Linked DNA regions of Homo sapiens. The protein of the gene in region 1 purifies or fractionates together with the protein of each later gene. This does not show direct contact. Each region holds a gene or a part of one and is shown in the gene's direction. Other genes may lie near its edges.

What was found.
Region 2: the proteins of TMPRSS3 (region 1) and PPP1R15B purify together in Homo sapiens (affinity purification with mass spectrometry; 2 studies listed by BioGRID and IntAct, with this or other methods). This does not show direct contact.
Region 3: the proteins of TMPRSS3 (region 1) and ALG9 purify together in Homo sapiens (affinity purification with mass spectrometry; 2 studies listed by BioGRID and IntAct, with this or other methods). This does not show direct contact.
Region 4: the proteins of TMPRSS3 (region 1) and LRIG3 purify together in Homo sapiens (affinity purification with mass spectrometry; 2 studies listed by BioGRID and IntAct, with this or other methods). This does not show direct contact.
Region 5: the proteins of TMPRSS3 (region 1) and NETO2 purify together in Homo sapiens (affinity purification with mass spectrometry; 2 studies listed by BioGRID and IntAct, with this or other methods). This does not show direct contact.
Region 6: the proteins of TMPRSS3 (region 1) and PDZD8 purify together in Homo sapiens (affinity purification with mass spectrometry; 2 studies listed by BioGRID and IntAct, with this or other methods). This does not show direct contact.
Region 7: the proteins of TMPRSS3 (region 1) and KIAA0319L purify together in Homo sapiens (affinity purification with mass spectrometry; 2 studies listed by BioGRID and IntAct, with this or other methods). This does not show direct contact.

Annotation. Positions count from the first base shown.
Region 1 is NC_000021.9:42,385,818-42,389,735, reverse strand, and holds part of TMPRSS3 (transmembrane protease serine 3), read left to right. Parts: intron 1-586; exon of another isoform or gene 587-690; coding exon 691-807; intron 808-1,209; coding exon 1,210-1,333; intron 1,334-3,918. UniProt on the Homo sapiens protein: Probable serine protease that plays a role in hearing. Acts as a permissive factor for cochlear hair cell survival and activation at the onset of hearing and is required for saccular hair cell survival. Activates ENaC (in vitro).
Region 2 is NC_000001.11:204,409,010-204,414,078, reverse strand, and holds the start of PPP1R15B (protein phosphatase 1 regulatory subunit 15B), read left to right. Parts: upstream 1-2,261; 5' UTR 2,262-2,667; coding exon 2,668-4,587; intron 4,588-5,069. UniProt on the Homo sapiens protein: Maintains low levels of EIF2S1 phosphorylation in unstressed cells by promoting its dephosphorylation by PP1.
Region 3 is NC_000011.10:111,861,249-111,865,610, reverse strand, and holds part of ALG9 (alpha-1,2-mannosyltransferase ALG9), read left to right. Parts: intron 1-359; coding exon 360-430; intron 431-912; exon of another isoform or gene 913-1,418; intron 1,419-4,362. UniProt on the Homo sapiens protein: Mannosyltransferase that operates in the biosynthetic pathway of dolichol-linked oligosaccharides, the glycan precursors employed in protein asparagine (N)-glycosylation.
Region 4 is NC_000012.12:58,878,630-58,882,991, reverse strand, and holds part of LRIG3 (leucine-rich repeats and immunoglobulin-like domains protein 3 isoform 2 precursor), read left to right. Parts: coding exon 1-123; intron 124-2,090; coding exon 2,091-2,411; intron 2,412-2,513; coding exon of another isoform or gene 2,514-2,584; exon of another isoform or gene 2,585-2,719; intron 2,720-3,886; coding exon 3,887-4,168; intron 4,169-4,362. UniProt on the Homo sapiens protein: May play a role in craniofacial and inner ear morphogenesis during embryonic development. May act within the otic vesicle epithelium to control formation of the lateral semicircular canal in the inner ear, possibly by restricting the expression of NTN1.
Region 5 is NC_000016.10:47,126,713-47,131,074, reverse strand, and holds part of NETO2 (neuropilin and tolloid-like protein 2 isoform 1 precursor), read left to right. Parts: intron 1-1,710; coding exon 1,711-1,851; intron 1,852-2,501; coding exon 2,502-2,750; intron 2,751-4,362. UniProt on the Homo sapiens protein: Accessory subunit of neuronal kainate-sensitive glutamate receptors, GRIK2 and GRIK3.
Region 6 is NC_000010.11:117,287,835-117,292,196, reverse strand, and holds part of PDZD8 (PDZ domain-containing protein 8), read left to right. Parts: intron 1-1,848; coding exon 1,849-2,011; intron 2,012-4,362. UniProt on the Homo sapiens protein: Molecular tethering protein that connects endoplasmic reticulum and mitochondria membranes. PDZD8-dependent endoplasmic reticulum-mitochondria membrane tethering is essential for endoplasmic reticulum-mitochondria Ca(2+) transfer.
Region 7 is NC_000001.11:35,452,662-35,457,023, reverse strand, and holds part of KIAA0319L (dyslexia-associated protein KIAA0319-like protein), read left to right. Parts: intron 1-782; coding exon 783-1,011; intron 1,012-2,538; coding exon 2,539-2,662; intron 2,663-3,334; coding exon 3,335-3,467; intron 3,468-4,362.

The DNA of each region.
Region 1 (3,918 bases):
GGGCTGCTGGCCATGCTCATGGCTTTGTCACCAAGGAACCTGCCCGGTTAGGAGTGGCCAAAGGCAGCTGATGAAATAGAATCCTGCAGGTGGGAGGGAGGCACTGACCGGGGCAGCGGGGAGAAGACAAAGAGACCTATTCATGCAATGCAGGCGCACCAGCTGTTTTTACAATAAGGTGCATGTGGCTTTTGAGAAAGTGGGTCATTTGGATGGAGGGTCTCTAATAGGGAACAATTTTTCTTTCAAATACCTGAATCACAGGTCAGTTCAATTCGCCACCTGCCCCACTGTGTGGTCCACACTTCGTTCACTTTCTGCCTTCGGTAAGAGAAACCAGGAAGGCCGAGCAGTTCTCAGTCAGGACTCCTTGCTCGGCTGGCTCAGCAGGTCGGCCCCCCGCCATGCAGTTTCTCTCTTGACCTTGAGACCTCCAGAGTCTAAATTCACCTTGCACTGTGGTTCCTGGGCCAGGCCACATAGCGAGATAAAGTGGGGCACAGCAGCCCCACCCCTTGGAATTCAAAACAGAAACTGGGCTGCAGGAAACAGGCTGCTGACAGGGACGCAATTTCAATACAGGTTTCATTATTCACGGGCCAGCTCCGCACTGTGTGGCAGGGGGACAGTTGTTAGTGTTGCACTCTGAAAGAGCTGTTGGTTAATTCCTGCCTTCCTCCCTTTTCCCAGTCCACTTCGACTGCTCAGGGAAGTACAGATGTCGCTCATCCTTTAAGTGTATCGAGCTGATAGCTCGATGTGACGGAGTCTCGGATTGCAAAGACGGGGAGGACGAGTACCGCTGTGGTAAGGTCATGGCTCTTCCCCTGGGGAAACAGAAGGAAGCAGCAGAAGCCAACCCTGACCCTTCCCATCTGTAAAATGGGTCCAAGTCATTGCCATTTTTAGGTCATGTCTTCAGCTGGGATTGAACTGGCGTTTGCCCAAAGACATGTTGGGCTGGGGGGTCAGGGAGGGCCTTCCATGGAGCTCTGGCTCTCTTGGGGAGACCACATAAGCAATAAGATGAGACCAGCGAGAAGTCTCAGGGATCCAGAGTCACTGCTCTGTGATGGGGAGGCTGCCGTGGACAAGAAGTGGGTCAGATTTGGCAGAGGAGGGGTTTGAGCTGGCTGTGGAGAAACCCCTGCCTATGGTCTCAGGGTTCCACTGGCCACTAATAAGCCTTTCTTTCTGCACATCGGCCAGTCCGGGTGGGTGGTCAGAATGCCGTGCTCCAGGTGTTCACAGCTGCTTCGTGGAAGACCATGTGCTCCGATGACTGGAAGGGTCACTACGCAAATGTTGCCTGTGCCCAACTGGGTTTCCCAAGGTAAGTTAAAGAGCATTTCCAACCCATGGGCAAAACACAGAGAGGATAACAATAAAGAAAGACAACTACCATTTAGTTGGGCACTATTGGGTGCTTTAACGCTCTCAGATTACATCCTCACATCCACCTTAGGATGCCCGATATCATCCTCACTTCACAGGCAAGCAAACCAAGGCCAGACAGGCTAAGTGACTTGCTCAAGGCACATGGGAAGTGGCATGTTTGGGGGTTCCCAGGGCCAGGCCAGGATCGGAGATACGAACATGCAATAAAAAGTTTCAAAGTAGAAAACAAAAACAAAACCAAAAAACCCTCCAGCTCCTCAGCTTGCAGCTCCTAGAGTAGCTTCCTGGACACTTTCCTGCTTGGTCCTGGCGGTCACATCAATGTCCATGCACGCTTCCCCAAGAACCCCACAGAACCAATTGTTGAAAGTCAGAAATTTAGTGAAGACACAATCATCCAAAACACTTGTTTAGCAACATGTAGAACAAAGAACTATAACAGTTGACTATTCACTTTTTAGTGTTTGTGTTGCCTACATGATTTTTTGCATTGGAGTGACACAGTTTTGGCCTAGGCATGGGCCTCCTTCTCTCCCCTGGCCCCTTCCTTCTGACTTCCTGCGGCCGCTGTACTTCCACGGGTTCCCCTAGCAGCCTCCTTACTCCCCTTTGCTCTCAAGTCTCAGCACTCAAAGCAGGCAGGCTGCATTCTGCTTTGCACTCAAGTAGATGGGGTCGTTAAAGCCACACTGCCCTGAGTCCTCCACAGAGTCTCAGTTTTCAAATTCCATGAATCATATTCTCGGCTGTCTTTCCCCAAAGCTGGTGGAAGCCAAAATGCCCTCCAGCCTCCAGCCCTGAGGTCTGCCTCCCTCTCCCTCCACACCAACTGAGATTCAGAAATGAGCTGCAATTCAAGTTCAATGAGAAGAGCAAAAATCATCCACACTAACGTCTTCAGGAATGATGTATTACTCCTTAGAGACAAGGAGGAAGAGGTACACACACACACACACACACACACACTGCACACAGCTGAGAGCTTCCCCATTGGGCATTTCTCTTCCCCGCTGAGCCTCTTCCTCTGACTCATTGGGTGGGGGGTGTTGGGGGGCCTCCTTTTCTCTTCTCTCTGCCCTCCTCCTCTGTCCTGGAGGACCACCGCTCTGTCTGAGCAAACCCCAAGGCCTCTCTGCTCTGTTATGCAGAAAAACTCAGCTCAATCCCTCTCCTTCCCCACCCAGCAGACCCAAGTCAGGAGCCCCAGCTGTCCCAGGCATCAGGTAGAGGCCACTCATGGTGGGGGTAGCCTTCCCGTCTCTCTTCCACCCCAGCCCGTTTGGTAAAATATTCCTTCTCATCCTTAATATGCTCCCTCTACAAGGAAATCCAGGGAATGCGATGTCCCCCATCTCTCACCCCAATATTGCCTACTTTCTTCTCTATAGGCTTGTTCTTTTGTTCTCTATCCATTGCTTCAGTTTCTAAGATTTATTTCTGCATTTTGTTCTATTTTCTTAAATTCTCCTTAAAATCCTTCTTTAATCTTCTCTGCTCTACTACATCCTATGTCAGAGATCTGTGATTCAAAAATAAATAAATAAATAAATAAATAAATAACCAAAGGACGGTCAAGCTAGATTGCTTGGGTTCAAATCCCAGTGTAGACTCAGGCAAGTTCCACACACAGTTCATGCCTCAGTTTCCTTTCTTAGAAAAGAGGGATGATAATAGCACGTACTTGGAGGGGAACTGAAGTTCCGCTGACGCTGTGAGTGTGGAAGGGCTTGGTGGGCAAGAGCACACTGGGCGAGTGTGTGGTTGTGGCTGTCATTGTTACCATTTTGAGACTTGGACAGTTCATGGGGCTCCAGTTGCAGCACTGGGGTCCCCTTGCCTGGCACAAGCCCCGCCACCTGCACTGGGGCCAAGCCATCCCAGCAACCATCGGCTCTTTCATGCCAGTGCCAGCGGAATCCGTGCATTGAGCAATCCCTGGAAGGGCTGCGAAGGTCGTGCCCGCCGCCTTGATTACATTTTCCTCAAAACTCAAAGTTGACTGAACTTTGTATTCTACATACACACCCCCATAGCATTTACAGTAAGCTGAAGAAATCCTGTTGATAAGCTGGTGTGTTCACTATGAAAACAAGCCTACTGTACTGTGTTTTGTTCATTTCACAAGGGAAGGAGAACATGGCTGTTTATTCACCATCTTCCATCTTGTGACTCTCCAAACATGTGATTCTTCTTTAAAAAGTTGCATCACTTTCACCACTGTTCTCCAGAAGACCTGTGTCCTGGCACTGTAAAAATGAGCTGGGCTCTGGTGTTCGTGGAATCGCTTTCTTGTTTGTGTTCATCTCTTTCCAGTGGGGCTCTGCGCTGGTCCTGGGCAGGTGAGGGATGTCTCTCCTGTTCCTCCAACTCACTGTTCTTGGAGAACTTGGTGTCCCTGCTTGGGTGCCCCCCGACAATACTGCACCTAGTTTTGTGCTCACCTCCCCTCTGGACTTGCTTCAGGCCAAGCAAAAGGCATTTCACTGGAATGCGCAAAGAGTGACTCAACCAAGGACATAG
Region 2 (5,069 bases), on another chromosome or scaffold:
TGTATTATGAAACTGACCTCTATTATTAATACATTTTTCTGAAGTTCATAGGATTGAGATTTTCCAGAGGTATGGATAATAATACAGGATAAACAACAGAAACTGAGGTCCTCTTGGCTTCCTAGAAAGAAGTGGTTGTGCCGAACGTGGTGGCTCACGCCTGTAATCCCAGCACTTTGGGAGGCTGAGGCGGGCAGATCACAAGGTCAGGAAATTGAGACCATCCTGGCTAACATGGTGAAACTCCGTCTCTACTAAAAATACAAAAATTAGCCGGGCGTGGTGGCATGTGCCTGTAGTCCTAGCTACTAGGGAGGCTGAGGCAGGATAATAGTTTGAACCCAGGAAGGCGGAGGTTGCAGTGAGCAGAGATCACACCACTGCACTATATCCTGGGCAACAGAGCGAGACTCGTCTCAAAAAAGAAAAAAAGAAGTGGTTGTTCCTTGAACAGGCCCAGTAAGGCAGGAGGAGCTGCTGGTCTCCTCCCAGCTCCCTAAAGATTTTTCTGCTGTCCCTAGTGCTCATAACTGCCACCCTCCCTCTGTAATTGGTACTTGACTTCAGGGGTATCTATTACAGAGTTTTAGCAGAAATAAAGAAATGAACTAAGACCAAACTCACAAGAGATAATCAAATACAGCAATTAAAATTACCAGCCATTTTTTTTTTCAAAGGATAGTGGTCCATGTTTCCTTTTTGGCTGTTGTATTCTGTGGTTCTGGTTGCTAAGGAAGTATTAATAAATATGAATTGAATATGTTGCCTGCTTGGAAGCATAAAAGAGAGTAAATAGTTCTGGGGACTGAGCTGCTTCTCTGTGAGTTTAGTTTGCCCCACACCAGACATGTATGTACGCAGCACTGCCCAACTTTTACATAAGATCTCAGGTTGATGGTCTACATAGTACTGAACAATAGGAGAACCCTGAAATATCTGTCAGGCTGGGCGCAGTGGCTCACGCCTGTAACCCCAGCACTTTAGGAGGCCGAGGCGGGCAGATCACTTGAGCTGAGTTTGAAACCAACCTGGGCAACACGACGAAACCCTGTCTCTATAAAAATATGCAAAAATTGGCCGAGCACGGTGGCTCACGCCTGTAATCCCAGCACTTTGGGAGGCTGAGGCGGGCGGATCACAAGGTCAGGAGATCGAGACCATCCTAGCCAACATGGTGAAACCCTGTCTCTACTAAAAATACAAAAAATTAACTGGGCGTGGTGGCACACGCCTGTAGTACCAGCTACTAGGGAGGCTGGGGCAGGAGAATCGCTTGAACCCGGGAGGCGGAGGTTGCAGTGAGCCGAGATTGCGCCACTGCACTCCAGCCTGGCGACAGAGTGGGAATCCGTCTCAAAAAAAAAAAAAATTTAGCTGGGCGTGGTGGTGCGAGCCTGTAGTCCCAGCTCCTCGGGAGGCTGAGGTGGGAGGCTCACTGGAGCCCAGGAGGTTGAGGCTGCAGTGAGCCGAGATCGCACTACTGCACTCCAGCCTGGGCGACAGAGCTAGACCCTGTCTCAAATAAATAAATAATAAAAATCTAAGACTACGATAACCCTACAGTTGGCCCGCGGGGCATTCAACCTTCCATGGATTGAAAATATTCGGGAAAAATAAAGATAATAAAACATAATACAAATAAATACAGTATAACAACTAGTTCCATAGCACTTGCATTGTATTAGGTATTATACTTAATCTAGGGGATGGTTTAAATATCTGGGAAGGTGTATGCAGGTTATATGCAAACACTATACCATTTTACATAAGGGACTTGACCGTCTGCGGATTCTGGTGTCTACGGGGTCCTGGAACTAATCCCCATTTCATGAGAGGGGATGACTGTACACACGTCAGTGTGTATTAGGCCATCAAAACGCCTCCGGGAAATTCTCGGGTTATTTTGAAAACCCCTCCCCTCCCCAAGACCTTTAACCTAGAGGGCTGTTGGGGCGGTCTCCTAGGAGACCACACAGAAACGACTGCGCATGCGTGCATTCCCCCCCCCCCCCCCCCCCCCCCCCCCGCCCCGGCTGATGCAACCTCACGCTGCCGTGCGGCTCTACCTCGAGTAAGGAAGCCGACAGGGAAATCTGGCAAAACCAATCGGCGGCCACACGGAAGTGGGCGGAAAGGCCCGCCCCCCGGGGATTTTGCGAGTGACGTTGGGCGGCGCGGCGCTAGGGACGTAGACGCCCAACAGTCCTGCGTCTCTTCCGGCGTCTAGGGGGGTGTCCTGCCGGCGCGCGGGCCCTGCGGCCATTTTGGGCTTCGCTTCCACCGCACCAGCCGGCCTACCCAGTCCTTCCGGTATCGCGTTGCTCAGGGGCTTTTCAACCCTCTGTCAGTCGGAAAACCATCGCCGAGGCCGTGGGGGGACTCCTATCCATGGTGTTGAAGCGTCGAGCCGACTAGGGAACCTCCTTCCCCGCCAGGATGGAAGTCGCATCAGTCGCCGCCTATTGCGCGGGCTGTTCTTCCCTGTGTTCTGCCGCCCGCTGCCGCATTCGCTGCCCTCTGTGGCTTTTCTGCTGGCTCGAAGATCGGCCTGGAGCAGCGACGCCACCGCTGGGCAAGGCCGAGACTCTGTAGGCTTCCTCCGAATCCCGTCGACCTCCAGCCGCTGAGCGCCGCGGCCCTACCTGAGAGACTGTCAAGAAAAAGGAGATGGAGCCGGGGACAGGCGGATCGCGGAAACGGCTTGGCCCTCGGGCGGGCTTCCGGTTCTGGCCACCCTTTTTCCCTCGGCGATCGCAAGCAGGCTCTTCTAAGTTCCCGACGCCTCTTGGCCCGGAAAACTCCGGGAACCCCACACTGCTTTCCTCTGCCCAGCCCGAGACTCGGGTCAGTTACTGGACGAAACTGCTCTCCCAGCTCCTTGCGCCGCTCCCCGGATTGCTTCAGAAGGTGCTAATTTGGAGCCAACTTTTCGGTGGAATGTTTCCGACCAGATGGCTAGATTTTGCTGGAGTCTACAGCGCCCTGAGAGCCCTGAAGGGACGGGAGAAACCAGCCGCCCCCACAGCGCAGAAATCTTTGAGTTCGCTGCAGCTCGACTCCTCAGACCCCTCGGTCACCAGTCCCCTTGATTGGCTAGAGGAGGGGATCCACTGGCAATACTCGCCCCCAGACCTAAAATTGGAGCTTAAGGCCAAGGGAAGTGCTTTGGACCCTGCAGCACAGGCTTTTCTCTTAGAGCAGCAGCTGTGGGGAGTGGAGCTGTTGCCCAGTAGCCTTCAATCCCGTCTGTACTCTAACCGGGAACTTGGCTCTTCGCCCTCTGGGCCTCTAAACATTCAACGCATAGACAATTTCAGTGTGGTATCCTATTTGCTGAACCCTTCCTACCTGGACTGCTTTCCTAGGCTAGAAGTCAGCTATCAGAACAGTGATGGAAATAGCGAGGTAGTCGGCTTCCAGACACTAACCCCAGAGAGCAGCTGCCTGAGAGAGGACCATTGTCATCCCCAGCCGCTGAGTGCAGAACTCATTCCGGCCTCGTGGCAGGGATGTCCACCTCTTTCTACGGAAGGCCTACCAGAAATTCACCATCTTCGCATGAAACGGCTGGAATTCCTTCAACAGGCTAGCAAGGGGCAAGATTTACCCACCCCTGACCAGGATAATGGCTACCACAGCCTGGAGGAGGAACACAGCCTTCTCCGGATGGATCCAAAACACTGCAGAGATAACCCAACACAGTTTGTTCCTGCTGCTGGAGACATTCCTGGAAACACCCAGGAATCCACTGAAGAAAAAATAGAATTATTAACTACAGAGGTTCCACTTGCTTTGGAAGAAGAGAGCCCTTCTGAGGGCTGTCCATCTAGTGAGATACCTATGGAAAAGGAGCCTGGAGAGGGCCGAATAAGTGTAGTTGATTACTCATACCTAGAAGGTGACCTTCCCATTTCTGCCAGACCAGCTTGTAGTAACAAACTGATAGATTATATTTTGGGAGGTGCATCCAGTGACCTGGAAACAAGTTCTGATCCAGAAGGTGAGGATTGGGATGAGGAAGCTGAGGATGATGGTTTTGATAGTGATAGCTCACTGTCAGACTCAGACCTTGAACAAGACCCTGAAGGGCTTCACCTTTGGAACTCTTTCTGCAGTGTAGATCCTTATAATCCCCAGAACTTTACAGCAACAATTCAGACTGCTGCCAGAATTGTTCCTGAAGAGCCTTCTGATTCAGAGAAGGATTTGTCTGGCAAGTCTGATCTAGAGAATTCCTCCCAGTCTGGAAGCCTTCCTGAGACCCCTGAGCATAGTTCTGGGGAGGAAGATGACTGGGAATCTAGTGCAGATGAAGCAGAGAGTCTCAAACTGTGGAACTCATTCTGTAATTCTGATGACCCCTACAACCCTTTAAATTTTAAGGCTCCTTTTCAAACATCAGGGGAAAATGAGAAAGGCTGTCGTGACTCAAAGACCCCATCTGAGTCCATTGTGGCCATTTCTGAGTGTCACACCTTACTTTCTTGTAAGGTGCAGCTGTTGGGGAGCCAAGAAAGTGAATGTCCAGACTCGGTACAGCGTGACGTTCTTTCTGGAGGAAGACACACACATGTCAAAAGAAAAAAGGTTTGTTTCTTGTCTTTTAACATGCCTGATATGTTCTGACTGTTTTTATATGCTTAAATATAGCAGCATGACTTTGGAGGCTTAGGAGTGCATGTATTTTTGAGGAAGGCCTCTAAATTCATATACTTGGATTGAGAAATATGTAAATGACCCTTCTCCTCCTGTCCCTCACCCCCCACCCCAATGCACATTGTTGCTGTCCAAAACGAACATACCAGTGTGTAGATGTTAGCAGGAAAGTGCCATTTTTATTTGGGTTGGTAGTTCTGGACTGTTTCCTTACAAGCTTCAATTTTTCACACTTTTTAACGGACTATTAAACTTTGTGTGTACACGATTTAATTTTTCTAGAGATTGAAAAGGTCCTGTTACAGCCATAGAGTTTTAAAATGATTTTAAATGTATGTTGTCTGCAAATACTTAATATTTTTTTTGCATATAACAAGAGTGTCTTCATTCCTGTCCATTACAACCCAAAGGGA
Region 3 (4,362 bases), on another chromosome or scaffold:
ATCTTTGTAAACATAAATTTTAATAGCTGTATAATTGTCCATGAGCTAGATGTAGCCTAGTTTATTTAATCATTTCCCTATAATTGGATATTTTGTAGTTTTTGAAACAGTTTTTACTAAAACTGCAATTAACATTTTCATGAATGGAGCTCTACCTCCCAACCCCCACCAGCTGGAGTGATAGAAGTAGGTATACTGATATTGAGTCAAGGGATATGAAAATTCTTGATCCATGTTGCTTTTCAAAAGAATTATACCAATTTACAGTGTTATTGACAATAAATGAGAGTGGTTCATGTTTATGAGTTTTTCTAGCTCATATCTGTGACTTCTGTTTTCTTTTTCTGGGTTTCTTTTAGATTCTTGTGTTTTACTTTTTGCGATGTCTTCTGGCTTTTGTGAGCTGTATTTGTGAACTTTACTTTTACAAGTGAGTATAAAAACTTTGCTTCTAAAAGTGCTGTGAGGAAACCCATTATTGCATAGATTATCTGTTGTGATAGTCTAGGCAGTGATTAGAAATAGAAAACTCTTGACCGGGTGCGGTGGCTCACACCTGTAATCCCAGCACTTTGGGAGGCCAAGGCGGGCAGATCACCTGAGGTAGAGAGTTTGAGACCAGCCTGACCAACATGGAGAAACCCCATCTCTACTAAAAATACAAAATTAGCCGGTTGTGGTGGTGCATGCCTGTAATCCCAGCTACTCGGGAGGCTGAGGCAGGAGAGTCACTTGAACTTGGGAGGTGGAGGTTGTGGTGAGCTGAGATTGTGCCATTGCACTCCAGCCTGGGCGATAAGAGCAAAACTCCATCTCAAAAAAAAAAGAGAAAGAAGTAGAAAACACTTTCCTCCTAGCTCCTGATATATATATCATATACATATTTTTTTTTCTGGGAAAGAAAACTTTTTTTTTCATACTGAGTTTTATTGTATGCTGCTGCCAGTGTGGATAAAACAGTTACCCTTGTGAAATAGAAATTCATGAAATTCAGAGAGGTAGATGTTAAAGACTGATGAAACTAGAAGTTCGTATATTACAGCACATGTGCTACAGGGATAAGCTTTTGTACAGGCTTCAAATTTAGCTCTCTTTTGAATATCCACTGGATCATAAGAAGTGGTTTGGGAAACTTTTGAAATTCATTTTACTACAAAAAAGAACAGATTTTCTGGGGTCTGAAGGGATTTGTACTTGAAGATACTCTAGTCAGCAGAGGGTCATGTTGAACATTCTGCAGACAGAATTGTTTGAAGTCTGCAGCTGCCTGGGAAACTTTTATGCAGTTGAGCCTGGCCTCCAGCCGGGGCTGTTGAACCACTTTCTTCATAGCGGCAACGCTGGAGGAGCCAGACATGGTGCACGTGAGGGCCGGGCCAGTTCGTGGGTTGGTGGGTCGTGGGTCAGCGGGGCCTGACTGAAAACTTCTTGCTTTTATTTATTGTTCTCTTCTTTTTCTTTTTTTAATTTTTATTTTTCAATAGTTTTTGGGGTACAGGTGGGTTTTGGTTACATGGATAAGTTCTTTAGTGGTGATTTCTGAGATTTTGATGCACCCATCACCTGTAGCTCCTGATATTAAATCTGAAGTGTGACTTCTCGTTTGAAACCAACAGTTGAAGGGAACACTGTACTTCTAATTATCGTTTTCTTTCCTGAGGTCATAAATACCATATCCTTATATCATTCATTTTAATTCTGTTAAAAACTATCTAACTGGTCTTTACTTGATAGGATTTAGTAGAACCCTATTTTCGGTCCTAAGATACAGGATCATGATTTGCCTCTGCCCTACAGCTTAGTTGATAATAAACTACTCCCGGTGTGGGATATCACTGCTCTTGTTTGCACCCAATATATTGTCTTTCACAAAGTACCTATTAGTTGATTGAATATTAGTTGGGACTATTAAGCATTTAAGTGTCCCGGTAATAAATATAGCCACCTTTTTTACATGATAACTAACAAACGTCTTGTTTTAATAATGCTTTAGTAATATATTTAAAGGTATTTGGACTTAGTGATCATTATTTAAAATCTTCCCACAGCTAAAAATGTCAGATTTTAAAAAATGTTTGGCCTTGACTGTGAGTGGAGTGGAGGGAAAAAAAGTAAAGCTAGTGCTGCCTTTGAGGATTGTAACCGTAAATTCCGTAAATTGGTCTTTATATGGGTTTGGGCCTGAATTCAGATCACCTATGTGGTCCTTCAAGCCCTAAGCTGAGAATTTACTTTAATATATTTTATTTATTTTATTTTATTTTTGAGACTGTCACCCAGGCTGGAGTGCAGTGGCATGATTTCGGCTCACTGCAACCTCAGCCTCCCGGGTTCAAGCAATTCTGCCATCTCAGTCTCCTGAGTAGCTGGGATTACAGGTGCAAACCACCACGCCTGGCTAATTTTTTGTACCTTTAGTAGAGATGGGGTTTCACCGTGTCTTGGTCTCCTGACTTCGTGATCTGCCCGCCTCGGCCTCCCAAAGTGCTGGGATTACAGGTGTGAGCCACCAGGCCCAGCCGAGAATTTATTTTAAATTGTTCTGGGTTGGTAGTGCCCGTGGCATCTGGCAAAAAATTTCTCTAGAGAAATGGACCCTTAACCCAAGTGTCTGAAAATTACCAGAGATAAAGTTCTAGTGAACAAGAAATTATAATAAAAATAAATCAGAGCACAGAGGGAGCAAAACATTATGGGTGAGAATCAGCAGAAATAACAGTCAACAGAACGTTCACCTGAAAAACTTCATTTATTGGGAAATAGGAATATAATGTAAGTATATTTAACATTTTCAAACAAGTAAAAGAACCAAAAACATGAACAAGAAACAAGAGATGACCAAATAAATTTAAAAAATTCAGAACTTATAAGAATCATATAATATGTAATATTATATAATATGAATAATATGTATATAATATTTATATTTAAGACTCAGTAGATAAACAGCAGATTAGACATTCTGATGAGTAAACTAGTAAATTGGAAGATTGATTTAAATAAATTACTCAAAATGCAGTACAGACAGACCAAAAAAAAAAGGTAATATAGAAAAGGTTAAGAAATGTGTAAGCCACGGCTGGGCACGGTGTTTTATGCCTGTAATCCCAGCACTTAGGGAGGCCGAGGCAGGTGGATCACTTGAGGTCAGGAGTTCGAAACCAGCCTGGCCAACATGGCGAAACCTCATCTCTACTAAAAATACAAAAATTAGCCAGGTGTGGTGGCACATGCCTATAGCCCCAGCTACTTGGGTGGTAGAGGCACGAGAATCACTTGAACTCAAGAGACGGAAATTGCAGTGAGCCAAGATCACCCCATTGCACTCCAGCCTGGGCAAGTGAGACTCTCTCTAAAAAAAAAAAAAAAAAGAAAAAAAAGAAACATGTAAGCCAGAGTTGAAAGAACTGACATACATCTAATCAGATTGTAGAAGGAGATGATAGAATGCGGAGAGGCAATATTCGGGGTATTAATAGCTGAGAATTTTCTAGAAATGATGGGAAAAAAAGATGCTAATCCATGGATTTAGTAAACCTAACATATCCCAAGCTAGATACATAAAAAATTAGTGTAGTGAAACTGTGTAAGACAATAGAGACAAAGAGAAAGATTTTAAAAATTGTCAGAGAACTAATAGAATACCTGCAAAGGAGTGTTAGGCAATTACACTGACAGAAGACTTTTTAACAGCCAGAAGACCAAAAAAGAATATCTTCAAAGTCCTGAGAGAAAATAACTTTCATCCTAAAATTGTATATTAGGTTAAGCCATCTTTTAAGACCAAGAGCTAAATACAGACTTTTCAGTTTAAAAAAAAAAGAGAAAGGGAAAAAAAAAGGAAGAAGCCTGTAATCCCAGTGCTTTGGGAGACTTAGGCAGGAGGATCATTGAGGATTGCTTGAGCTCAGGAATTTGAGATCAGCCTGGGCAACATAGCAAGACCTCATCTCTACAAAAAATTAGCTGGATGTGATGGCACATGCCTGTAGTCACAGTTACTCCTAGCCATTCAGGAGGCTGAGGCAGGAGGTTCCATTGAACACTGGAGTTCAAGGATACAGTGAGCTATGACCATGCCACTGCACTCCAGCCTGAGCGACAGAGAGTATGACTCTATCTCGGAGTGGGAGGAGGAGGGGAAGAAAGGAAACGAAAGGAAACCAACCAACCAAAAAAACGGAATTTATCATTAACAGATTCTTATTGAAATAACTTCTAAAAGAGGTACTTAGGAAAAAGCAAAATTATTTCAGAAAGAAGCTCTGAAATGCAGTAAGGAATCTGAGCTAGGAAATGATGAACACGTGGGTATGTCCGAACAAACATTGACTGAGTGAAGCAGTAATAATGCCTAAATAC
Region 4 (4,362 bases), on another chromosome or scaffold:
AATGGCTCCCACAGTGGGTGGCGGAAAACAACTTTCAGAGCTTTGTAAATGCCAGTTGTGCCCATCCTCAGCTGCTAAAAGGAAGAAGCATTTTTGCTGTTAGCCCAGATGGCTTTGTGTGTGGTGAGTATAAGTATTGCCCTTGCCTTTTATTTATTCTTCTTTTTTCCCCCTCCCATTTATCCAAATAATGGTTTTGAATAGATTTATGATCTCTTTATAAAGCTTTTATTTCTGCTGAGGTAGAGGAAAATGGGTCTATAGTTTGCTGATTATTTTAATTTCACAGATGGGAAAGAGAGTTTTCTAAAATTGCTTCATCTTTGTTTTGGCATCAGGATGGTGCGGTGGAATGAGAATGAAATTGGATCTTGGGAGAATGGAAGGGTAATCTCAGCCCTTCTACTTAACTTAAATTCCCTAAATATTAGTCTCTGCATCCATGAAATGGGGACTCTCCTTTCTTCTCTTCCCAACTCTGAGGCTTGTTGGGAGGTTTACATGAAAGAGAAAATTATTAATGATTTATGGGGTGCTAAAAAATTAACTATTGGTCGGTAAAACATTTACAAGTAATAGGAAATGTGAATTTATTATAAATAATTTTAAGGTCCATTGTTTTAGCATCCAAGAATCTCAGCATTAGAAATCTAGTTACCTGAACTTTACATAGCTAGTTAGTAGCAGATCTGGATTTAAAAGAAAAGTTTTCATCTCTGGTGTAACTTTCTGTCTATTACATGATGCTGCCATTTACTATTAGCTGCCATGGAGACCTCTGTAAAAATAAATATGTTTTATAAACCAATAAATCAGAATTTGCTTTTATTTAAGCATGGGTGTTAAAATATTAAGAACCTTCTTTTGCATTGGCATTTAAAAATTTACTTAAAACTGCTTTGTCCACGATATATATTTTTAGGTTGCAGCATTAAGCAGTGCCAGTAGTTTCTGGAAATAAAACCTCTGATGTAGCTTTTGGAACTGAATAAGCTTTTGGCATTCATCTGTAAGGGCCTGAACTGCTCCTTTCCCATGGTCCTTGTTTCATAGTTTTTTAGTCCCAAGATCTGATCCCCCTATTACGTTGAAACACATGTATAGTATCCATCGTTTTTTTCACTTCCTTGTGAATCTGAACATCGATTTATTAGATGAGAATTTCAGAATAGTACAGAAAACACCTCGATTACAATATGCAGACATTGAAAAATAGCAGCCCTGGAGTTATCAAAGCATCCCCTATAACCCATTCAATACACATAAAAAGTTGTCTTTTCAAATAGTAGCACCCAAATGGTACGCTTTGGTAGATCTCAGATGTTTCCTTCTGGGTTTAGATCATGGCTGAGAAACTGAAGTTCAAAAAGGTAACTTTTCCAAAATGTAACAGAGAACTAAAAATAACTGTTAGAATGAAAGAGTTGCTTAGCTCTAATTATAATGTAGCTTTGACAGGGCAGCGCGGCGGCACGATTGGCCGCTCAAAGCTCCAGGCTGAAGCCAGTGTCTTACAGTTTGTTTTACAGATGCTTTTTCTTTTGCTATCAGCTTTTTTTTTTTTTTTTTTTGCCTCTACCTAAATTACTGTTTTTAAATAGTGGTTCTGTTTTGGTAAATGAAGTGTTAATGGCTGTCTTTGTTGATTAATCATGATTGATGTTTGATTTCCTAATTTTGCTGCTCATTATCTGGGGAGAACATGGGAACAATTGCAGTTTCTGATAGTAGCATTCAAAAATGATCCCTGAGCCTGGAAGTTTTTAAACTGCTTTCTTCTTCTACTTATAGAAAGCATAAGGGATCAGGAATAAAGTGTGGGTTTTCCGATAGCTCCAAAATAACAGTCTTTTCTCAGGTAATAGTGATTGATAAATAGATCTGCATCTGTATTCGAGATGAATGAGTTACTTTATAAATACTCTCCCAGTGTATCATTTCAACATGGGGACGGCTAGTCCATCTGGAAAACATACACAAAGGGTAAAACCTAAGCCACTGTTTTTGCATTTCTTGGTGTTCAAATTTGAGTAGTATTTGGACTCTTGAGCCTTAACATTGTTTTGTCTCCTCCTCTCCATTTTTAACAGATGATTTTCCCAAACCCCAGATCACGGTTCAGCCAGAAACACAGTCGGCAATAAAAGGTTCCAATTTGAGTTTCATCTGCTCAGCTGCCAGCAGCAGTGATTCCCCAATGACTTTTGCTTGGAAAAAAGACAATGAACTACTGCATGATGCTGAAATGGAAAATTATGCACACCTCCGGGCCCAAGGTGGCGAGGTGATGGAGTATACCACCATCCTTCGGCTGCGCGAGGTGGAATTTGCCAGTGAGGGGAAATATCAGTGTGTCATCTCCAATCACTTTGGTTCATCCTACTCTGTCAAAGCCAAGCTTACAGTAAATAGTATGTGATCTGACTTTTCCTTTAGCATTTAAAGATACCTTTTAGAAATAGAAAGCACCTGTTTTTCTCTCTTAATCTTAACCCTGTCTTTTCTTCTCACAGTTCCCCACCTGACTCTTCCTTTCCCTACCTTTCATTCCACAAAATTAAGATTCTTGGTTATTTGTATCTAAACCTGCAATTATGTTGAAGACGACACCGTACTCAGTGTGGTGAGTAACACAGAGATGAACCAGACATGTTTTTGCTCTTTTTTTTTTCTTTTTCTTTTTTTTTTTTTTGAGACGGAATCTTGCACTGTCACCCAAGGCTGGATGACATCCTGGTTGCAATCTTGGCTCACTGCAACCTCCACCTCCCAGATTCAAGCAATTCTCCTACCTCAGCCTCCTGAGTAGCTGGGATTACAGGCGTGCGCCACCATGCCCGGCCAATTTTTTGTATTTTTAGTAGAGACGGGGTTTCACTATATTGGTCAGGCTGGTCTCGAACGCCTGACCTTGTGATCTGCCCACCTTGGCCTCACAAAGTGCTGGCTGGGATTACAGGTGTGAGCCACCGTGCCCAGCAATGTTTTCCTCTTTGAGAGTTTACAGTGTAGTATACTGATCTGGAAGGCTGCAAAGCATCATGCTGGATGCACACTGCCTTTAATTCAGAGATCTGTGTGTGAATCCTGCCACTCCTGCGTGATTTTCAGCAGGTTGCTTCACTTCTCCGCCTCCAGTTCCACATCTTTCAATTAGGGATAATAGGACCTGCCCCCTAGAGGCATTATGCTCATTTAGTGAAATAATATGTGTAAAGGATGTAGCAAAATGGCTACAAGGTAGTGCTCAGTAAATGCACTGTTAGCCACTGTTAACAGAAGTCTATTCTTGTTTGCTTTGTGTGGTAGGTATACAGTTTTACAGTAGGATCCTTGCCACTTTATCATTTAACTATCTGTATCTGCCGTGGTAGAAGATTTTGAATATGATTCATTAATGCATTCACTCAGCAAATGATGGCTGTGGCCTGGCACATAGAACAGTTTTGAGTTTAAATTGTAGGGCAAAACATGTATCTTAAAAGTCACAGAATGTTAGAGCTACCAGGAGAGACTTTAAAAAAAAAATAGATGAAGTGAGTGGTCAGGGTACAAAGAGATTAATTGATACACCCAAGATCTCACAGTTGATTGTTGAGGAAACTAAAAAGTGGCAGAAAATAGCAGGAAGACCTTCATTCTGAGAATCAGATGACCTCTGTTTTATCCTGACTTCATTGTTTCTGTATCTGTAACCTTGAGCAAGCCTTTTAATCTTTCCATCTCAACTTTAGTTTCCTTGACTTGAAATTGGAATTAACCCCTGCCCAATCTATGTCAGGGACAATCTGTAAGTATCAAACAAACAAACAAATAATAAAAAGGAATGCAAGTGAACCTGTAAGACTCCACTGTGCTAATGCCTATATTGTTTCTCTGATTTCAGTGCTTCCCTCATTCACCAAGACCCCCATGGATCTCACCATCCGAGCTGGGGCCATGGCACGCTTGGAGTGTGCTGCTGTGGGGCACCCAGCCCCCCAGATAGCCTGGCAGAAGGATGGGGGCACAGACTTCCCAGCTGCACGGGAGAGACGCATGCATGTGATGCCCGAGGATGACGTGTTCTTTATCGTGGATGTGAAGATAGAGGACATTGGGGTATACAGCTGCACAGCTCAGAACAGTGCAGGAAGTATTTCAGCAAATGCAACTCTGACTGTCCTAGGTGGGTGAATTTGTTAAGATTCTGTAGTATAAATCAGTCTTGAAGATACTAGCTCATCCAAGGTCCCTAAGTATCAGAAGTTGTGAGAGTAAGAGATGAAGATGTATGGGGCATTGCCTTTTCCTAGAAAGTATTAATGCAAATGGCCTCTTGAACACTTTGAAGTCAGGGATTGCATGACATCCTCAAGTCTG
Region 5 (4,362 bases), on another chromosome or scaffold:
CTGTTTTAATTTTTAAAATTCCCTTTCCTCCATTTTCTCTCTTTTGCCTTTTCAGGAATTCTATTATTTTACTTGGTTATGGCCCTCTTGGTTTTTGTTTCTGGCTCTTCTGTTTTCCATCTTTTTGCTCCACATTCGCTGAGACTTCCTCAACTTTACCTCTAAACCAGGAGTTAGAACACTTTTTCTGTAAAGGGTCAGATCGTAAGTGTTTAAGGCGCTGTAGGTCCTACAGTCTCTGAAGCAACTCTTCAAATTCCTCAACTCTTCTGTCCTGGAACAAAAGCACACAAATGATGGGGATGGGTATATTCCAGTAAAACTTTATTTACAGCAGGCTCCAGGTCATGTTTGGCCCAGGGTCATAGTTTGCTGAACTCTGCTCTAAATGTTCTGCTGATTTTTTCATCTCTTCTGTTTTTGGAAGCTTTTTTGGTTCTGTTTTCTGAATATAATATTGTTTGTACAGTATCTTTGTTTTTGTCTTATAGATTTACTTGCTTTTCTTTCTCAGGATATTAAATGATTGTTTTGTGGTGGTGGTGGTTTTTAAATATTTTTCTTGCATAGTCTTTATCTCCTCAGAGTTGCTTTTCTCCAGTTTTATTATTATTATTATTTATTTATTTATTTATATTAGAGATTTTCCTCCAATGTCTGGTGATCCTTGAGGGCTCATATTTTAAGAGGGGCACTAAAAACTGATCGTTAACTGTCTGCAGGTGTGGGCAAGGATCAGTTACTGGCTCTCACTGTTGACAGATCTGACACTGGGGAACTCCTGCATCTGCATCAAGCCTTTCCTAGGGGCTGTTTCGACTCCCAGAGAAGAATCTTTTCTTTTCCTGCTTAAAGGCTCAATATCTGACCAGGAGGCCTTTGTGGGAGTTAAGCAGGAAACGAAGGCTGGGACATGTGCTAACATTCACTCGTCTCCCTGTTTTCGTTCTCAACTGTTCCTGGTGTCCCCTAGTCCAGTAACCCTGTTGTTTTACCTTCTCCAAAGAAATCACCTTTAGTGTTCTGATGTGGTTGTAGAGCTGCTAGATTTGTGGAGGAGGAAAGGGTACTGAAAATCCAACTCATTCTAAACAGACTTTTAACTAGCCTCGTGTTTTTAAAAAGCCCAATTTCACTCACCACCCCCAACCCCACTTCCTGGTACTGCCAGTTGTTACTGCTATATCTACCCCTCTCTGTTTAAGAGTTTATACCCTTTTAAAAATCCTTTTATTGCTGTTTAAGTGGAGTTTGAGGAAGGAGCTCAGCTACGTGCATGTATTTAGTCTACAGTCTTCAACTAAAATCCCTCTAACCTTTGAATCATCTTTTACTGTTGTGTTAAACTAAGTTTGAGGGCCCCATATCAGAGATCAGCTCCTGGGATGCCTTTATTTTTAGGTTAGAACTGAATTGTATTGCATCTTACTGACTTAGCAGATTCCCCCATATGGTTTTGCCCTTTGTTAAGTGCCTATAAGCCCTTTATTTCCCTGTTCTCTTACACGGCAAACTTGTCCTCTCCCAGCAAGTTTTCCCTCCCTCTCTTTCACTTCTGTACTCAATTTATTGTGCTAAATTTGACAGTGGTTCTTAGAAAATTTTATATATGTAGCATAGAGTGAGCAATCGTTTGGAAAGTGGTGGGGGAAAGAGAAGAATGATTCTCTTTTGCTGTAATGAGTGTTTTAAATGCCGTTTTTCCCTAAGATGGACAAAATATTGGAATCAAGCATATTCCTGCAACCCAGTGTGGCATTTGGGTTCGAACCAGCAATGGAGGTCATTTTGCTTCGCCAAATTATCCTGACTCATATCCACCAAACAAGGAGTGTATCTACATTTTGGAAGGTATTTGAACGATTTCTTTTATTGGATGAATTTTTACTTTATTGTAAAACTAAATATGTTGGTAAAATGACCTATGTAAACCAGTTTGAATGAAATTTAAACATGTATTTGAATTAAACTGTAGTAATGATAAGTATTTCTGCATATTGAATACATTAACAAGATACTAGCAGAAATGTTAGGGGAAGTTTGAATCTCCCAAAGTATAATTCAACTACGTACATTAGTATGTATGAAAAACTTCTTTCTCTGATAAGAAACTTAAACTTACTGGCATCCCTTATAAGGCTTAATTCAAATTTATGTCCACATAAGTGAGTTCTTTTCATTTCTTCTGTTTATTTTTCTGTGTATTGTGGTACGTTGTATCTTGAACTAAGTATTAGCTTCTTGACTCTTCAGTTTGAATCACTCAAAAATATTTAATTTAGTAGATAGCATATGCCAATGGAAAAGATTACTATAGTTCTACAGAGTAGCATTATTTTTAATGTAAGATACATTTATCATGACTTGTATAGCAATTCTCACTAAGACCTTTGTCTATGAAGCAGTTAGCAGAACAGTTATTCTGCTTTTCTCATTTGTGTCAATACATTTATATTCTTTCTTGTTTGTGTTGTCCTGATTTGCTTACTCTTATTTTCTAGCTGCTCCACGTCAAAGAATAGAGTTGACCTTTGATGAACATTATTATATAGAACCATCATTTGAGTGTCGGTTTGATCACTTGGAAGTTCGAGATGGGCCATTTGGTTTCTCTCCTCTTATAGATCGTTACTGTGGCGTGAAAAGCCCTCCATTAATTAGATCAACAGGGAGATTCATGTGGATTAAGTTTAGTTCTGATGAAGAGCTTGAAGGACTGGGATTTCGAGCAAAATATTCATTTATTCCAGGTAAAGAATAAGTTATCTTTTAAGTGGTTGGGCATCTCACTCTAACTCTGATTTTAGAATCTTAAGGTTAGAAAAGAGATTAATTTGGTCAAGTTAATCAAATCAAGATTTTAAACAAATTAGCAAAGTCAAAGGGAAATTAGTCCATGAACAAATAAGAAGTTAATAGAAATTGGACATAGAAACGTATCACTTGAATTTTGAAGCATATCAGAGATGGTGCCACATTTTCTTAGATTTTTTTCTGTCTTATAGCACATGCTCAGGCTAACATTTAAAATACATTTAAAAATAAATAATTTTAAAAATAATTCAACAAATTGTCTTGTTTTCAGAATTCCCACAAAAATTGTTTTGTATGATTTTTCTCATTTAGCTGTTAGAATTAACCACTCAACTGAATGAATACTCTAGAATATATTGAGCAATAGAAAGAATACTGCTCTGCACTTGGATGTCAAAGATCTGGGTTTGAATTCTTTCTCTGCCTCCTAATAGCTGTAAGACGATTAAGCACAGAATTATGTTTGAGATTGGCCATTAGTAAAATGGGAATGCCTGCTGTGTTAGTTTATTGATGCTGCCATAACTAATTACCTCAAATTTGGCCACTTCAGACAGCAGAAACTGATTTTCTTGCCGTTGGGGAGACCAGAAGTCCAAAATTGAGCAGGGCCTCACTCCCTCTAGGAACCTGGGGGAGAATCCGGTCTTTGCTCCTTCCAGCCTCCAGTGCATGCCCCAGCATTGCTGGGCTGTGGCTGCATCACCTCAGTCTCAGCCTCCCTCTTCACAGCTCTTTCTACTCTTTTCAAGATCCTTAACCTAATGGCATCTTTTGTCTTGTAATATTTACTCTTTTAAAAAACTATATGTGTGTGTGTGTGTGTATAGATACATATATAAGTGCACCCTACTACTCACAGGTTATGGGGAATCCAATGTGTGTATATTGGGGGGCTACTGTACCATCAGCCTGCTCCACCGTGTTACCTGCCCCACAGTAGGTGAGAACACTCTGAGAACTGTAAAGCCCTGTCCAGTATGGCGTGTACATATCCCTAATGCAGAAACAGATGTGCAAGTTATTGTTCCTGTCTTCACCAAGCTTACACACTAACAAGATGAAAAAATAACAGTAAGACAACTGCATGATCTTTTTGCTTTTATTTTTCGTGCAAGAAATTTAATTGGAAAAAATTAAAACATTGAAATGAAAAGAAAATATCCATAATCCTTCCACCCTGTATATAAAATCAGTGTGAACAATTTGGTGTATATCCCTTCCAGTGTTTTTCTATATCTGTTTCTTTTGTTTGTTACACAAGATTGGGATTATGGTACACATATAACTTTATTATCTGCTTTTTTGCCTGAAAAACAGATGTTTGCCTGTTAGTACTTATGTAGGAAATTTTAAGCTTGGCTTCAGTGTTTATCTGCTCTTTTTAAAAATTTTTTTCTATATTCTCCATAGCCAACCAAGTATTTATTTGCACAATACCAAAAGGATATTTCCAAAAAGTAAACATTGTCTAATAGACTTTATTTTTTAGAACAGTTTTAGGTTCACAGCAAAATTACACAGGAAGTAGAGTTACCATAAGCCTCC
Region 6 (4,362 bases), on another chromosome or scaffold:
ATGATTAAGATTTTCCTTAAAATAACTTTACAAAATTTGTTAACACCCAAATTAAAGAGCAACTTCCAGTGAGGGTTCTTTTACCAGCGAATATCATTAGGTAGGAAAATTGAATTTCTGTCCAAGTGGGATTTATATATTAAAGCAGTGCAGCCAGTGATATATTTGGATATTAGGGTATTTGGCAAAGTCCCTCATGAGATATCCTTGAAGAATAGGACTTAAGAAATGTGGACTGGAGAATAATACAATTAGACTGATTTGTAATTGAGCGCCATAAACACTAATTGAATCCTTGTCAACAGCTGGGATGTAGCACTCTGCCTGTTTTTTTTTTTTAAATCAGTTGTTTGAATGAGGACACATAGCATGATGATGTTGTTGTTAATTCACAGATGATGTTAATCTAGTATCCACATTCCTGAAAATTGGATGGCAGGTTTATTTAGAAAACAAAATGATCTTGATGGGTTAGAATAGGACATCTCATTAACAATGTAACTTTTTTTTTTTAAATAAAGATGGGGTCTCACCATGTTGCCCAGGTTGGTCTTGAACTCCTGGGCTCAAATGGTCCTCCCACCTCAGCCCTCCTTAGTAGCTGCGATTACAGGTGTGCACCACCATCCCCATCATCCCCACCACATGATAACTCTTTTTTTTTTTCTGAGGTGGAGTCTCGCTTTGTTGCCCGGGCTGGAGTGCAGTGGTGTGATCTCAGCTCACTTCAACCTCTGCCTCCCGGGTTCATGCCATTCTCCTGCCTCAGGCTCCCGAGTAGCTGGGACTACAGGCACTGCCACCACGCCTGGCTAATTTTTTGTATTTTTAGTAGAGACGGGGTTTCACCGTGTTAGCCAGGATTGTCTTAATCTCCTGACCTCCTGATCCGCCCACCTCGGCCTCCCAAGTGCTGGGATTACAGGCGTGAACCACTGTGCCCGGCCGATAACTCTTAATAAAGTATAAATGTAAACTCTTTTCCTTTGCCTATTCCCAAAAAAGAAACTTGAAGAATACACTGGCCGGGTGGGATGGCTCACGCCTTTAATCCTAGCACTTTGGGAGGCTGAGGTGGGCGGATCACTTGAGCCCAGAAGTTTGAGACCAGCCTGGGCAACAGTGGTGAAACCCGATCTCTACACAAAAAAATACAAAAACTTGCCAGGCGTAGTGGTGCACGCCTGTAGTCCCAGCTGCTTGGGAGGCTGAGGTGAGAGAATCACTTGCGCCTGGGAGGTGGAGGTTGCAGTGAGCCAGGATTGTGCCACTGCATTCCAGCCTAGGTGACAGAGTGAGACCCTGTCTCAAAAAAAAAAAAAAAAAAAAAAAGGATACACCATACAAAATGGAGTTTCCAAAGCACATATTATGAATGACATAGATCATTTTCATTATATTTGAAAAAAGCAAGATTCAGAATTATATTCATGATTATAATTGTATTGACTACTATGTCTCAGTATTATTGAGACAAATCTCAATTTTGTGTTAAATATATATTAGAAAATATATAGAATAGTTCTAGATTGTATAATTAGGAATGGTTTTCTTTTTATTTTGCCTTTCTGTTTATTTCCCAATTTTCTACAATGAGCATGGAGCAAGGAGTAATAATAAAACACATTGAAGATAAAGTGTTTAATTTTTTTGATGATTTAAATGTGTAGCCTAAGGATAGTTAATTTATATTGTTACAGTAAAGATTTTCTCCTTCCTTTATTTGCCATGATAGAAAAGTCAGCATCAGCCATGGTGCTCTCTGCACATAACAGTCTGTTACTGTTTTTTTCCTCTATTACTAGGAATCCATTGAATCAGTTTTCATTTTTTTCCCCTTTATCAAAGGTTGAATTAATAAAAGGAAATTTACAAAGTGTTGGACTTACACTTCGTCTTGTCCAGTCAACTGATGGGTATGCTGGGCACGTCATCATTGAAACTGTGGCTCCAAACTCGCCTGCTGCAATTGCAGATCTTCAGCGGGGAGATCGACTTATCGCCATTGGAGGTAATTATGCTAATATGCATTATACTTTACCTTTACAGATAAACTACAAAGTAGGTGTGAGGTTTTTCCTTTCTTCCTTTTTCCTTATTTCTATAATATGCATATGTCACTTTTATAATGGAAATAAAGTAATAAACTTTATTATAAATAAAAATTCAAAGGAGGCCTTCAAAATACATTTAAAACATACATGCCATTTTAGTTCTAGTGTATAAATCTTTAAAATACTTTGTTTAGACCACTTTTATATAACCACTCTAATCCTTCCCTTCCCACCTTCTACTACTCTATTTATTTTTTCTTGAATGTGAAAGTAAGGGCAAATAAACAGGTTATCTTTCTGTACGACTACCACCATTGCTACTCTGAACCTAAAATTGGTAGTATTAGCACTACTGCCCCCATCACTTAGCACTAGATGATGAGCAGAAGAACCAACATTCCTTTTCCAGGAGGGCACATCTGAACTGTCCTGTGATCCTGTGTCATCTAAATGGCCAGCCATTTGTTAGTATGTTGTTGCTCAGAATTCAGCCCAAATCACTGGTGGAAAAATGTGTCACTTACATGCCTTCCTATCACTTGGATTGTTAACAGTAAAAACTCTCTGAAGATAGCAGGTTATTTGCTTGTATATAAATGTCTAAGCAGTAGGACTCACTGTGCACAGCAGTGAGGGGAAAGTCCAAGCCTTTTCAACCTTTGTAGTACCTGTCCCATCTATTCTAGGCTTGTTGAGAGATTTCTTGAACATATGGTTGGTCACAGTTGATCTGAAAAGGGCAATGTGATATTTTCTTTCACAGCTTAGACAATAAATAAGTTAGAACAGTTCCCAAATCAAGGTGCAGTTGTCCTTGGTTACATGTCAAAGAAACTCTGCCTTTGATTCAAATCCACCTTGACAATAAAATAATGAAAATTATTTAGTTGCATATCTGGGAGCCCAATTAAGTCAATATTTTCACATGGGAATCTCTGATCATGGCATAAGCAGTGCTTCTCAGACTTTCCCATGTATGCCAGTCACCCAGACCTGATGTTAAAATGTGCATTCTGAATCAGGAGACCTGTAGTGAGGCCCAAGATTCTTCATTTCTCACAGACTCCTCCCAAATGATGATGCTTATGCATAAACACTTAGGGAGGCATAAAATAGACATCATTCATTATATTAATATCATTTAATATTTTGGTTTTAGCTACAGGATAAAATTAATTTTTTCGGTCTTTTTTGGGGGTTGTGTTTCAATTACACAAGTAGTAAATACCTATTATCAAAAATAAATTAATTAACCTAAGCGATATAAATGTATACAGAGTGAAAAAGCAAAAGTCATCCCTTGACATCTAACATTTGTTAATTACAATAACAACAGGCCGGGCTCAGTGGCTCATGCCTGTAATCCCAGCACTTTGGGAGGCCGAGGCGGGTGGATCACCTGAGGTCAGGAGTTCGAGACCAGCCTGGCCAACATGGTGAAACCCATCTCTACTGAAAATATGAAAATTAGCTGGGCATGGTGGCAGGCGCCTGTAATCCCAGCTACTCAGGAGGCTGAGGCAGGAGAATTGCTTGAACCTGGGAGGCAGAGGTTGCAGTGAGCTGAGATCATACCATTGCACTCCAGCCTGGGCAACAAGAGCGAAACTCCATCTCAAATAATAATAATAATATGTATTAAGATGAAGGGCAGATACAATACACATTCATTGTTTTAAAAAAAAGAAAAACCTTGGAACATAACAGAAAAGCTTTTGTATGTCTCTTTTTTTGTTTTTTTGTTTGTTTGTTTTTTTCTGTACATAAATATATGCCTTTCCCAATTTTTGTTTAGGAAACAAAAATTTCTAAACTATGCATTTTTGTAATAGTCTTTATTTCTTTTAGCATGTTGTAAACTTTCCCCATGTCAACAGATATTTTTCAAAACATTTTTATATCGCTTTGATTCATTTATATGGGTATATAATTGATGATAGTTGAAATAAGATTGGCAAAATATTATATTTGAAGCTCAAAATGGAATTCATTTTACTGTTTCCTCAGCTTTTGAGTGTGTTTGAAATATTCCAAAAGAAAAATCCAGACTTGAATGGTGTATTCCTGAGAGAGAGTTGCAATGGCCATCTCCACAAAACACCTGATGACTGAGGAATAGATGAGACGAGGGCAGATTTTTAGTCATAAAAAATGAGTTCAGATTGAGTTGAAGTTTTTGCCTACTGTAGATCATTAGATGGACTAATTTTTCATTTATGCATATGTCAAACTATAATTTTGCTGAGACATAGTATGGTTAGAAGGACGTAGTAGAACTTAAAGCTAGATAAATAATGAAGCACCATAT
Region 7 (4,362 bases), on another chromosome or scaffold:
ATTGCCTGGATCAGAACCTGACTCCACTGCTTTCAAGCTGTATGACCTTGGGCAAGCTTGCTTCCTTCCTTCCTTCCTTCCTTCCTTCCTTCCTTCCTTCCTTCCTTCATTCCTTCCTTCTTTCCCTCCCTCCCTCCCTCCCTCCTTCCTTCCCTCCCTTCCTCCTTCCCTCCATCTCTCCTTCCTTCCTTCCTTCCTTTTTCTTTTTTTTTTTAAATGAAGTTTCCCTCTGTCTCCCAGGCTGGAGTGCAGTGGTGCAATCACAGCTCACTGCAACGTCCGCCTCCCGGGTTCAAGAAATTCTCTTGCCTCAGCCTCCCAAGTAGCTGGATTATAGGCCTGCACCACCATGCCTGGCTAATTTTTGTATTTTTAGTAGAGATGGGGTTTCACCATGTTGGCCAGGCTGGTCTCAAACTTCCAACCTCAGGTGATCCGCACGCCTTGGCCTCCCAAAGTGCTGGGATTACAGGTGTGTGCCAACGCACCTGGCCTCTCTGTCTTTCTCCTCATATATGTGAGGAGTAAAATGAGGATGATACTTTATAGAATTGTTGTGAGGATTTAATGAGATATAAAGAACTTGGAGCAGTGCCTAGCACATCATAAAACTTCAGTCAGTGTTAGCTTCTAGTAGTACTTTCTGCTTCTCCAATAGAAGTGGGTAAGAATAGGTAACCTTGCCACATTGGTATTTCTTAGCCTTAATTTTCAGTCTTCTAGTGTTTATTCCTCTTTCCTTAAACCCGTCCCTGATCACACTCCTCTCTCTGCCCTGATAGCTTGACTGTAGTAGACTCTGATGGAGCTACCAACTCTACTACTGCAAACCTGACAGTGAACAAAGCTGTGGATTACCCCCCTGTGGCCAACGCAGGCCCCAACCAAGTGATCACCCTGCCCCAAAACTCCATCACCCTCTTTGGGAACCAGAGCACTGATGATCATGGCATCACCAGCTATGAGTGGTCACTCAGCCCAAGCAGCAAAGGGAAAGTGGTGGAGATGCAGGTAGGAGGGAATGGTTCCTATTTTTTCTTGCCCAAGAGAAGTAGAGCTGCTGGACTGCATTTTTAGAAACCTCCAAACAAACTGAGAAAGCTTTAGGGGCCTTTGATTAACGTGGTAGCAAAAATCTTTATCTTGGCCGGGTATGGTGGCTCACGCCTGTAATCCCAGCACTTTGGGAAGCTGAGGCGGGCGGATCATGAGGTCAGGAGTTCGAGACCAGCCTGGCCAACATTGTGAAACCCCGTCTCTACTAAAGATAAAAAAATTAGCCGGGCGTAGTGGCGTGCGCCTGTAATCCCAGCTACTTGGGAGGCTGAGGCAGGAGAATCCCTTGAACCTAGGAGGCGGAGGTTGCAGTGAGCCGAGATCACGCCATTGCACTCCAGCCTGGGTGACAGAGCAAGACTCCATCTCAAAAAAAAAAAAAAAAAAAAAAAAATTATCTTAAATGTTTAGTATTAGAGGAAAAGGCTGAGAAATGTTAGTTGTTCTGGATGACTCCAGAGAGTCAAACTATTTAGAAGCTACAAGGGTGCAAATCTTAGTGAGCTCTATAACAAGTTAGAGTAGATTGGCTAGATGGTGAGTATCTTCTCTCTAGAGATGCTTAAGAAGAGAGACTAGATCTGTCACCAGGCAGGTAACATAAAGAAAGAAAACTGGATGGTGGCTGTGCTGAACTTAAGCCCTGACTAAAGGAGTCATCTACTCTTCAGGTCCAGCTGGTTGTTGCCACATGGAAGGATGGTCCTAACATTGCTTGATAACCCAGCTTTTCAAGAGAAGAAAGAAATTGAGACCTTTATGTGAAAATTTCCAATATGAGAGACACCACAGGCCAAAAAAAATATTTGCAAGCTGGATTCAGCCCATGGGCTACTAGTTTTTGCCTACTGCTCTACAGGAAGTTCCTGCATTGGAAGTTTGCCCAAAATTATTTATAATGTCCCTCAAGATTCTATATTTCTCAGTTTTAAGGCCTCCCTTAAAGCCTCCATTTTACCTGACTTTTGTTTAAATGTTATGTTAGGTTGTTGCAGAACCTGTACAGACCTGAAGGAGACAGTATGGTGTTATACAGCATCTTGAGCTGCTGCCATGTTTCACTGAGACAGCTTTGTTAGGAGCACTGTGTAGCTTCAGTAGGAAGAGGATCTTTTTAAACAGTGTTTTTAAAACTGGGTCATTTATTGTTTGTTCACGGTATTCTTTCTGGTTTGAGTCATAGAGACTGGCCTTGGTAATCTCTGCACATTTCCCAATACTGCCCTCTCTTATGAGAGTTCTGGCTTTATTTGAAACTGCTGCTGTGTCAGAGAGGGTTGTTTCCTTGAAGGGGGAAACCCTTAGCAAGGTGCCTCATGATATCTGACTCCATATTCACTCACATGCTGAACTGGTACGTAATAGCCCAGTACCATCTTAGGTCTTTGGTTTAGAAAACTAAATCGTTTTTACCAGAGTCGGAATTATTGTGTGATGTGATTCCTGGAGTCCACTTTTCCACTTCTGTATTTGTATTTGTAGGGTGTTAGAACACCAACCTTACAGCTCTCTGCGATGCAAGAAGGAGACTACACTTACCAGCTCACAGTGACTGACACAATAGGACAGCAGGCCACTGCTCAAGTGACTGTTATTGTGCAACCTGGTAAGCTCCAGCCTTGTGGTTCAGGCTCTTCTATTGGTGGGTCCATTTAACCTTGGGGGAAAAGAGTGTTGGGTTCTGAGCTGTATGAGGGTAGAAGCAGAAGGCACCGATCCATAGAGCCTCTGGTGACTTCTATTGTTCCTTCCCCTTGTGCTTTCTTCATAGCTAGAGATGAAGGATACTTCCCAGCCTCAGCTTGTGCCCTTCCCTTGGCTTGTTGTTGGTACCTTCAAAGAGACCTAGGAAATAGAGTTTATGCCATCCCAAATCCTAAAAAGTAATTGCGGTTTTTGCCATTCCTTTCAATAGCAATTACTTTTGCACCAACCCAATACCACGTCCTTGAAGGGCCTGCTTAAAACTGACTTCCTCAGGACAGCCCTGTCTTGTCACTCAAATCCTTTCATTTGAACTCCCTTAGCATTAGAGTTCAAGTTTAGTATGGCATTATAACTTCATTATGTTCTATGTTTCTGTCAGAATTGCTTGATATGTTTCAGCCTTATATTCTTTATTGTGTGCTCCCTGACGGTAACCACATCTCCCACAGTATCTGACAGTTCTGTGGCCTGAGAGGCAGAGTCCATGGCTTCCAGAACATGTGTCCCAATTGGTTCCTCTCCTTTCCCACCTGGACTGGCTGCTTTTGACCTCTAACTCTTTGTCTTCCAGAAAACAATAAGCCTCCTCAGGCAGATGCAGGCCCAGATAAAGAGCTGACCCTTCCTGTGGATAGCACAACCCTGGATGGCAGCAAGAGCTCAGATGATCAGAAAATTATCTCATATCTCTGGGAAAAAACACAGTGAGTATTGACACAAAATCCTTATTTTTGCAAAGCCTCCAGACCTTGGAAGAGCAAGGTTTTATTTGCTATTATGAGTTGAGTTGCTCTTATTGGCTTATCCAGTGGGGTGACTGAGGAAGAAATGTTTGCAATTCCAAACTTCAACTCCAAGAAAATGATATTATAATCATAATTTTTGTAAGAAAAAAAGAATGCTTGCCATCAACTAGTCCCCAGGTAGTACTGTGTGATCCTGGTGCTTTTTCAGGTACAATCCATCTGCTGAAATGCAGAGTTTAATTACACTTGAGAGGCAGGATGGAAGGGGTAATGGAGCAGAAAAATACTGTTGCTCAGAATTAACTGGGTAAGGCTGGCACGGGGGATGGGGCAGAGCAGCTATTAAGAGAAATTGAAAATACATCCATAAAATGAAAGCATTACTCTGTTATTGTTTTCTTGAAGACACCATTTACCAATTAAGTTAGCCAGAGGCCAAAGGCGGTAATCAAAATAATTCTAATTACATAGAAATTACCTAACTGAACCATTCTTAGTTCCTGTAGTTTCTTTTAGCTCCTTTAAAGCATAACTAATGCAACTGAAATTATATGCAGGATCCCACAAGTAGCAAAAGAATTCTAAGAAGAGTTAAAAGTATTCTCTGTTTCCAAAGGTAGCAACCATAGGACAGCCTGGGTTTTTTTTTGTATTGTGTTTGTTTGTTTGTTTGTTTGTTTGTTTGTTTGACAAAGGCATTGGAGATGGGTGGAAAAGAACTTTAATTTGACTATACAAATGACTTGCTTTTGAGATTGCTGAGTTGGAATCTAGAAATTATTTCCCTCAGCTCTTGTTTTTATCTTTTGTAGAACATAATCTTACCCAGCCCAGGGTGTTTTTAATTATAATT